2 linked regions of the Homo sapiens genome follow. The protein of the gene in region 2 interacts with the protein of the main gene of each other region in a pairwise test. Each region holds a gene or a part of one and is shown on either strand. Other genes may lie near its edges.

Region 1 (4,624 bases), on a different chromosome or scaffold from region 2:
TCAGTAAGCAGAAGAAGCACCTCAAGGACTTGAAGCTTACACTCCAGAGGTAGGTGCAGCTGTAGCCCGGGGGCTGCCCTGGTTCTGAGGGACAGAAGTCCAACTCAAAACAGGCTGAAGCAGAGAATGGAAATCTCAGTGGAAAAAGACAGGACTGGGAGTTGCTTCAGGCATCACTGGATCCAGGAGTCAAAGGGTGTTTTGGGGCATGTATTTTTCCCTCTAAATTCTGCCTTCCTCTGGATTGGTGTCACTCTCAGGGTGACTGTCCCCTTCACCAGCAGTGCCAGGCTTATATTCTCCAGCCTTGCTTCCTGCCGGCTGTGCCACCCTGGCTGAAGGAGAGTGTCTCTCTTTTTTTTTTTTTTTTTTTCTTGAAATGGAGTCTTTCACTCTGTTGCCCAGGCTGGAGTGCCATGGCATGATTTCGGCTCACTGCAACCTCTGTCTCCTGGGTTCAAGCGATTCTCCTGCCTCAGCCTCCTGAGTAGCTGTGATTACAGGCATGAGCCACTGTGCCTGGCCGAGAGTTTCTCGTTCCCAGTACTTCAGCCGACATTCTGGGTTCAGTCCTCATTGGCTGGGATTGGTTGAATGCCCATTTGTGAACCAATCACTGAGAAGCTGCTTGGGCAGCGCCATGCCGTGTGCTAAGTCTGTGGCCCTGGGCGGTGGAGGGATGGCCACATGGGTGATGGGAGAAGAAGATAAGTAGTTTCCCGGGTGAAAGTTGGGTGCTGTTATAGGAAGGTGCCCTGCCGGACAAGTAAGCAGGCAGCGTCCTTTTGTGGGTGTGGGGTGCCCTCCCCACTGGGGTTGCTGGTGTAGTGGCCACTAGGCTGCCATCCCTGGTGGAGATGTGCTTGAGCTCATAGCTTAGTTCAGTTCCCAAGGCCTGGATCGTGTTCATTTCCTGACACTCATGGTCTCCAGGTCTGGGAAGTCCCCTCCTGCCTGGTATGTGAAGGGGCCCAGTGGATGCCGTGACCCCATTGTCAGGCAGGGAAACTGAGGCTCCAAGTGACTTGTCCCAGGTCACTTAGCTGGGCCTCCATTTTAGAATCTGGGACTCCTGGTCAACTCTTTCCTTGTGGACAATTTTGGAGGAAGGTCCTGATTATAGCTCTCAGTGTGGCTGGCCATTTTGGAAATGGAGGCCCGCAACTAAGGGGTAGAGAGTGTGGATGGCCCTGTGCAAACACGTCACCAGATGTGGCTTTGGAAAAACACATCTTGGTAATGGCAGGGCTCAGAGTCTAGAGTTTCTTCAGATTCTCAGTGATTGCTTCACAGATGGGCACATGGCGAACCCCAGCACTATTGATGGGTCTTTGTGGGGGCCGTGCAGTGCACTGTGGGATAGTGAGTAGCATCCCTGGCCTCTGCCCACTGATGCCAGTAGCACTCCTGCCCCAGGTGTGTCCACCAAGATCTCTCCAGGCATTGCCAGCTGTCCTCAGTTGAGAAGTGCTGGGTTAGAAGGTTGACCCGTGAGTTAGGGTCTTAGACCAAGGACCCCTGTCATTCTGAGATGTGTCTGCTGACTTGTTTTCTGGTTTTGAGAGTTCCGTGTTACCAAAGAATAACAGACCATGATTGGTCGACTGCTTATGCTTTCAGGTGCCTTTTTGTCTGTCTCTTGGTCATCTGTAGGTTATTCCTTTATTTCTATTTTTTAAAATTATTTTCATTCATTCATTCATTCATTCAGAGATGAAGTCTCGCTCTGTTGCCCAGGCTGGGGTGCAGTGGTGCAATCTCGGCTCACTGCAACCTCTGCCTCCCGGGTTCAAGCAATTCTTCCTGTCTCAGCCTCCCGAGTAGCTGGGATTACAGGTGCCCGCCACCACGCCCAGCTAATTTTTGTACTTTTACTAGAGACAGGGTTTCACCATGTTGGCCAGGCTGGTCTCAAATTCCTGACCTTAAGTGATCATCCTGCCTCGGCCTCCCAAAGTGCTGAGATTACAGGTGTGAGCCACCATGCCTGGCCTTACTTTTTTTGAGATAGTGTCTTGCTCTGTCACCCAGGCTGGAGTGCAGTGGCGCAATCACGGCTCACCACAGCCTTGATCTCCTGGGCTCAAGCGATCCTCCCACCTTAGCCTCATGAATACTAGGACTACATGCATGTACCACCATGCTTGGTTGTTGTTTTTTGTTATTGTTGTTGTTGTTTTTGAGATGGAGTTTTGCTCTGTCACCCAGGCTGGAATGCAGTGGTGCTATCTTGGCTCACTGAACCTCTGCCTCCCGGGTTCAAGTGATTCTCCTGCCTCAGCCTCCCAAGTAGCTGGGATTATAGGGGCCTGCCACCACACCCAGCTGATTTTTATATTTTCAGTAGAGACAGGGTTTTGCCATTTTGGCCAGGCTGGTCTCGAACTCCTGACTTCAGGTGATCTGCCCACTTCAGTTTCCCAAAGTGCTGGGATTACAGGCATGAGCCACCACACCCAGCCCCTGGTTGTTTTCTTAAACCGCCCCCCCACTTTTTTTTTTTTTTGAGACAGAGTTTCGCTCTTGTTGCCCAGGCTGGAGTGCAATGGTGCGATCTTGGCTCACTGCAACCTCTGCCTCCCGGGTTCAAGCGATTCTCCTGCCTCAGCCTCCCGAGTAGCTGGGATTACAGGCATGCACCACCATGCCCAGCTAATTTTGTATTTTTAGTAGAGACGGGGTTTCTCCATATTGGTCATGCTGGTCTTGAACTCCCAACCTCAGGTGATCGGCCCACCTCAGCCTCCCAACGTATTGGGATTACAGGCTTGAGCCACTGCACCCGGCCTTGGTTGTTTTCTTTAATTAATTTTTTATAGAGACGGGGTCTTGCTATGTTAGTCAGGCTGGTCTCAAACTCATGGCCTCAAGTGATCCTCCTGCCCTGGCCTCCCAAAGTGCTGGGATCATAGGCGTATGTGCTGGGACTATAACATCATGCCTGCTAGCTATTTCTTTAGAAAAATGAGAAGAAGGCCGGGCGTGGTGGCTCACGCCGGTAATCCCAACACTTTGGGAGGCCGAGGCAGGCAGATCATGAGGTCAGGAGATCGAGACCATCCTGGCTAACATGGTGAAACCCCATCTCTTCTAAAAATACAAAAAAAAAATTAGCTGGGCGTGGTGGCAGGCACCTGTAATCCCAGCTACTTGGGAGGCTGAGGCAGGAGAATGGCGTGAACCCAGGAGGCGGAGCTTGCAGCGAGCCGAGATGGCGCCACTGCACTCCAGCCTGGGCGACAGAGCAAGACTCTGTCTCAAAAAAAAAAAGAAAAGAAAAGAAAAATGAGAAGAAAAATAGTATTGTCAGTAATTATCCCTTGAGCTCATACTATCAAGTATTATTCTAGATGCTCTATGCTGTACTTACTCATTTAATCCTCACCAGGCTATTGTCTGTGAGGTAGGCTTGAGGTTATCCCGGCTTTTCAGGTATGGAAAATAAGGCAGAGAGGTTTAAGGACTTTCTGAAAGTCACAAGACTACCTGGGAGGCAGCATCACTCCTCCAACCCCGAGAGTTGAGATGGGGAACTGCGGTTGCGAGAGGCACTGGGGTAGAAGGTGGGAGGCTGGGGTAGAAGGCGGGAGGCTGGGGTAGAAGGCGGGAGGCACTGGGGTAGAAGGCGGGAGGCTGGGGTAAAAGGCGGGAGGCTGGGGTAGAAGGCGGGAGGCTGGGGTAGAAGGCGGGAGGCTGGGGTAGAAGGCGGGAGGCTGGGGTAGAAGGCGGGAGGCTGGGGTAGAAGGCGGGAGGCTGGGGTAGAAGGCGGGAGGCTGGGGTAGAAGGCGGGAGGCTGGGGTAGAAGGCGGGAGGCTGGGGTAGAAGGCGGGAGGCTGGGGTAGAAGGCGGGAGGCTGGGGTAGAAGGCGGGAGGCACTGGGGTAGAAGGCGGGAGGCTGGGGTAGAAGGCGGGAGGCTGGGGTAGAAGGCGGGAGGCTGGGGTAGAAGGCGGGAGGCTGGGGTAGAAGGCGGGAGGCTGGGGTAGAAGGCGGGAGGCTGGGGTAGAAGGCGGGAGGCTGGGGTAGAAGGCGGGAGGCTGGGGTAGAAGGCGGGAGGCTGGGGTAGAAGGCGGGAGGCTGGGGTAGAAGGCGGGAGGCTGGGGTAGAAGGCGGGAGGCTGGGGTAGAAGGCGGGAGGCTGGGGTAGAAGGCGGGAGGCTGGGGTAGAAGGTGGGAGGCACTGGGGTAGAAGGTGGGAGGCTGGGGTAGAAGGTGGGAGGCACTGGGGTAGAAGGTGGGAGGCTGGGGTAGAAGGTGGGAGGCACTGGGGTAGAAGGTGGGAGGCTGGGGTAGAAGGTGGGAGGCACTGGGGTAGAAGGTGGGAGGCTGGGGTAGAAGGTGGGAGGCACTGGGGTAGAAGGTGGGAGGCTGGGGTAGAAGGTGGGAGGCACTGGGGTAGAAGGTGGGAGGCTGGGGTAGAAGGTGGGAGGCTGGGGTAGAAGGTGGGAGGCTGGGGTAGAAGGTGGGAGGCACTGGGGTAGAAGGTGGGAGGCTGGGGTAGAAGGTGGGAGGCTGGGGTAGAAGGTAGGAGGCACTGGGGTAGAAGGTGGGAGGCTGGGGCCCGGGGAGTCCATAGCCCTCCTCCCTCTGAGTGACGCCCCTTCCCCTGTGCCTGCATCTCTGTCCG
Region 2 (5,254 bases):
TTCAAATGCTCCTCTCTTCTTTATGCAGAGTGTATTTCAAGGCTCAGCCAGTGGCAGGCATGCTGGGGACTATGGACTACGGACTAGGGGCCTGTCACAGAGGAAGGCCTCATGCTAGAGAGCTAAGGGAGGAGCTGGCCTTCAGTTCCATCCCAGGAGCAACTTTGATGTTCCCAGAGATCCTTCCAAAGGGGGAGTCATGGTCACCCAAGAAAAATGTATTCAGAATGCCAAGAATGGTGCAAACTCAGGACAAAGATTCACACTGCAGGGTTGGAGTCCCTGGGCTTGCTGCTGGCACCATGGGAGGGAGGGTCCCCTTCAGGGGTACCGTTGGTTTCCTGTGAATTAAACTGGCTTCAAGGGATCTCGACTGAACAGGCCTATATCACACTCACTGATATACTCTCTCTTCAGTCCTTCTCCTCATCTAGGTATTTTTAATTGTTTCAGTGAGGTGTAGGCATGAGGGGATTGGAGGGGGCATCTCCTCCATTGCAGTTTTTCATTGGCTGCTTTGCTCCCTCAGCTCCGAAATCGCTGGGCCACTCTCGAACGCATTAGTACGGTAGTCACAGGTTGATTGCCTGGCCCCTTGCCCTCTGTGGGCATTTTCCCTTTCAGACAGCCCCTGAGTACTCACAGTGCTGCTACAGTGGGCCACCTAGATCTCCCTCTTTCTCCATGCTCCCACGTGCTCTGGGCTCCACTCCCTTCTCCCAAGCACTTCTGTCCAGGGCTATTCCAGCAGTCTGACCTCAAGGAAATCCTTTGCTAAACTGATTATAGAGAGGTTTCTATTTTAACATTTAGGTCTTCCATGTATTAATTCTCAGAATCAATTTAAGATGTTTAAAGGTGTGATTTAAGACATTTTAAAACCATTTGGAGGAGAGTACAGAAATTATGTCACTTGCTGTCAGCCTCTTTGCACCATCTGCAGAGAAAGATACTAGAGTCCCGCCTTGGACACATCCACATGCAAGAGGTGCAAAGAAGGTGTCTTTGATGAGGCAAGGTCAAAACTTCTCCCCAGACGAAATCCAAAGAAAGCATTCCTACTATGCTATATCAGTTTGGAAAGAAAAACTTCTGCCAGGTGACTGCATTCTCACTGGTCACATTGTGTTCCTATGGACTCCTCAGCTCAACCAATTTGGAGAAGTTATGGTGCAATTTCACCATATCTGGTTAGAAGTTAAGTTTCCAATTTGCTGGCAATGAAGAAGAAATGGAGCAGGCCAGGCTGTGTAGTTTCTGCCACGTGCCCCCGGGAGTGAACAGCTCTGTTTGTAAGAAGCCATGGTGCTTAGACCTGGGCTCGCTAGTTGCCAGCCTCCAAATTGCAGAAGTGCCCTTTGGTTGGTGGCTATGCTGTGTCACTTGGGAAGGTCGTTTGGAAGTTCCACAGTCGTTGTGGGGTGCCAGAGATTAAAAAGCGTAAGAGGAGAGTGGAAAGTGATTGTTGCTGCTTGGGCATCCCCACCGTGTGGGTGCTGCAGCCCAGCTCTCAAAACCCATGGGTCTGTACACTCAACCTCCATGAGAGGGAAGGAGAAGGATGAGGGAGGGGAGAGATAGCCATGGAAAGGTAGGAACTAAGCAGGCAGGGTGGAGAGTTTTCTGTAAGACAAAAACTGTCTGGACACTGCTGCGGTTCTGTTACAAAGACCACTTCCTCCCTGGGCCAGCAACATATCTGTGTGCCTGTCTGGGTTGTAAAAAGGGTCAAAGATCAATGCAGCAGGCAGCTACATGCTGGCAAAAGCCAGAGGCAGCTGGTCTGTTTGCCTGTGCCAGGAAACCACTGGGAATGGGGTTGTGTGTTATTCTAGGAGAAAGTCGTCCCAGCAGCAGCTTCTCCAGGGGCATCCAAGAGCACTGAAAAGGGTTGCAAGATGACCCATGAGGCTGCAGGAAGAAAAGAACATGCATTTAATCTTGCTATCTGAAAAGTAAGACATGAAGCTTTCCTCATTTTTAATATACACATGGACAGTAGTATGTGTATATAGTTTATATGCAAATATACTTGTTATAAGGTTGCATGCTCAAAATTTTTGGTTCATGGGGTGTGGGATCATAAATGTTTAGGGACCATGGCTATCAAGGAAAAACAGCATGAAGGATAAATGATACTGGTGGATTAAAAAGACAGATGCATGTATTTTTAGCATAAAACACAACTGCTGACTGATACAGATAGCTCAAGATTCTGGGGCAGCTGCTGAACAGATACACTAGCCAGTGTGGCTCATCGGCTCAGACTTGGCCTTAATTAATGGGCTGTCCCTCCACCCATCTCCCATGAGGGCAGAGCTGAGCCAGGGTTTGAGAGCTAAAAGGAATTGGACCTGGACTCTGTTCACGTGTATATTTTAATTCTAATTAATTCATTCTTTTGAAAGACAGAGTCACACTCTGTTGCCTAGGCTGGAGTGCAGTGGCACGATCTTGGCTCACTGCAACCTCGGCCTCCCAGGTTCAAGTTATTCTCCTGCTTCAGCCTCCTGAGTAGCTGGGATTATAGGCACATGCCCCCATGCCTGACTAATTTTTGTATTTTTAGTAGAGACGGGGTTTCACCATGTCAGGCTGGTCTTGAACTCCTGACCTCAGGTTATCCACCCGCCTTGGCCCCTCAAAGTGTTGGAATTACAGGTGTGAGCCACCGTGCCTGGCCTGTTCACATGTATAAAACACAGTTTAATGTCCTATTCCCAGCCAATGAGCATGGCTAGAGCAGCCTTGGTCAAAGTTTGGTTTTTGGAGAAAAATCCTTGTTAGCTGACCTAAGATTCCTCTTTGTGAGTGTAAGTAAGCACAGGTTGCAGAGAGGAGAAGGGTCTCTGGAGAGGTGTAATTTTCTAAATGGATTACAAGTTCATGGACTTTTAACAGGTGTTACAGGGGATAACAAGTTCTTTATAGACAGACTTTTGAGGACGTTTAAGGGTATTCTGATTCTTGGTTTTCTAAGAGGGGAATGTATTATTTAACTACAGACACCCCTACCGCCCACTTTTTGCAGAGTGTATCAAAACATGTTTTTGGAATACCACCCTCATGTCGCTTCTCCCTGCATCTCTTATCTCTTGGTGTCCATTCTAGACTCACTTTCTTTCTGTTTTTTATTTTTATTTTTTTTTGAGATGGAGCTTCACTCTGTCACCAGGCTGGAGTGCAGTGGTGCAATCTTGGCTGACTGCAACCTCTGCCTTCCGGGCTTAAGCAATTTTTGTGCCTCAGCCTCCTGAGTAGCTGGGATTACAGCATGCACCACCATGTCCGGCTAATTTTTGTATCTTTAGTAGAGACAGGGTTTCACTATGCTGGCCAGCCTGGTCTCAAACTCCTTACCTCAGGTGATCTGCCCGCCTCGGCCTCCCAGAGTGCTCAGATTACAGACGTGAGCCACTGGTGCCTGGCCTAGACTCACTTTCAAGTGGCATAGACTTGTAAAATTATTTAAAGGTGATAGGTCTACAATGATCCTGTCAATTAGTATTGACACTATTATTAATAAACTGTTATTAATTATATTTACTTACTTTAAATTAATCCAAACTAATTAACGGAACACTAAAGAGTTTCTATGTTTTATTCCCAGAGGTGGAGAAAAATGAAAGGGAATATAGCAACGAATTCTTTTCTCCATAAAAACATGAATAGTGCAGCACATCAAGTTGAACATACCACAGCAAATTGTTGCAAGATCTGCTGAGTAGCTCCTATTTAGACCTCAAGGAATGAGACTCAAAATGGGTTCATCAGTTCTGTTTTGCAGAAAAAATAGCGCAAAATTTCTCAAAAGAAAATCCAGAATAATAATAATTTGTCAATAGGAAAGACATTTCCACTGGGGGTTAAGAAGGAAGACATTGGAACAATGATAGCCACCACTTATTGAATGCTTACTGTGAGCCAGGTGGCACTTCACCTTGTTTCATTCTCACAACAGTCTAGGGAAGTAATTACTAATGTCTCCATCCACCTCTTGTAGATGAGCAAACTGAGGCTCATTGAGGCTAGGAAATGCACCCACACTCACATAGCCCATAAGAGGCAGCCATGGCATTGGGCCCAGACCATGTGAACTTCAAAGACTACACGAGCAGCCACTGGGCAGCTGTCATGGCTAAAGCCACTTGAATTCAGCCCAGCAGCAACCCCCTCTCCAGGAGGGGCACATAAGCTTGCAGCTTTGGGTAGAAGCTGCACTTGAAGTCCTGGATGGCGAGAGGGACTGGCTTGAGCCAGAGCCAGGAACAAGGCTCTGAGAATATTCTGGAAATCCACAGGAGGAACCCATTTTCTTACAGCTGGGAGAATTTCATTCAACTCCAGGCTGACCATGTTTTATTAGGAACGAAGGTGACTTGAACTAATAGTCAGGAATGGTTGAATACGGACCCAATGTCAAATCACTAGGCAGTTCACATTTCTAATGAGCAAATCCCTTAGACAATTAAGAATTTTTTTCCTTTTGCATAACCCAGACAAAATCGCTACTTAAAAACAAACCAAAGACCCGAAACATGAGAAAGAGAAGGAAGCAGGGGAAATCTTTGGTACTAATAAGTTTTTAAACAATAAGAGCACCAGATATTTTACCCCATCAGACACAGAATGTTATTCGAATAACCAAAAAAGGAATTTTTTCTCTAAGTTTCTTGAACTGGAAAATGAATCATATTTTCTCAGTCCTGAGGCTGCAATTTTGTGCCTCTAGTAACATATAAGAATAGATGTGATGCCAGTGCCCAGTAGCTGCTGCAATTGTTACTTGGGGACCTGTTTATTCACTAAGCACTTCACCCCAGTGATAAATTTGTAGGGGCCTCCTGCCCTTTGGAGCTCCTACCGTGTCCATTAGATCAGTGGAAATTCTGGGATTCAGAGCACTTTGCAAGGTCAGCAGGGGTCTGCTCTTTCTGTCCTGTTCCTGGTTTTTGGTTGTGCCTGGATTCCAGGGTAGGTTTCTCATCTGTTACCTTCATAGACTTCTCCAGAAAAGGATCTTTTGACCATCAGAGGACCACGAAGATTCCATTGGTGAGGCGCAGATAACCTGATCTCTCTGGGTTCTCTGCAGGGCACAGATGAAGGGCTGGCCATTCCCAAGTTCTCAGTGGTACCACTGAGGCATGAGACCCTAATGGTTTGCATGAGCAGTTTGAAAATTGCATCTTTGTTTTTACCTATATAATCACATGAAACCCGTGGTTCTCAAACGTCAGCAGGCATCAGCATC

Evidence for each region. The genes of interacting proteins can lie anywhere in the genome.
Region 1: the proteins of ALOX5AP (region 2) and TMEM120B interact in binary tests that used the Homo sapiens proteins (3 or more experiments, as listed by UniProt).

The regions. Positions count from the first base shown.
Region 1 is NC_000012.12:121,743,699-121,748,322, forward strand, and holds part of TMEM120B (transmembrane protein 120B), read left to right. Parts: coding exon 1-49; intron 50-4,624. UniProt on the Homo sapiens protein: Necessary for efficient adipogenesis. Does not show ion channel activity.
Region 2 is NC_000013.11:30,744,790-30,750,043, forward strand, and holds part of ALOX5AP (arachidonate 5-lipoxygenase-activating protein), read left to right. Parts: intron 1-1,835; exon of another isoform or gene 1,836-1,905; coding exon of another isoform or gene 1,906-1,955; intron 1,956-5,254. UniProt on the Homo sapiens protein: Required for leukotriene biosynthesis by ALOX5 (5-lipoxygenase). Anchors ALOX5 to the membrane. Binds arachidonic acid, and could play an essential role in the transfer of arachidonic acid to ALOX5.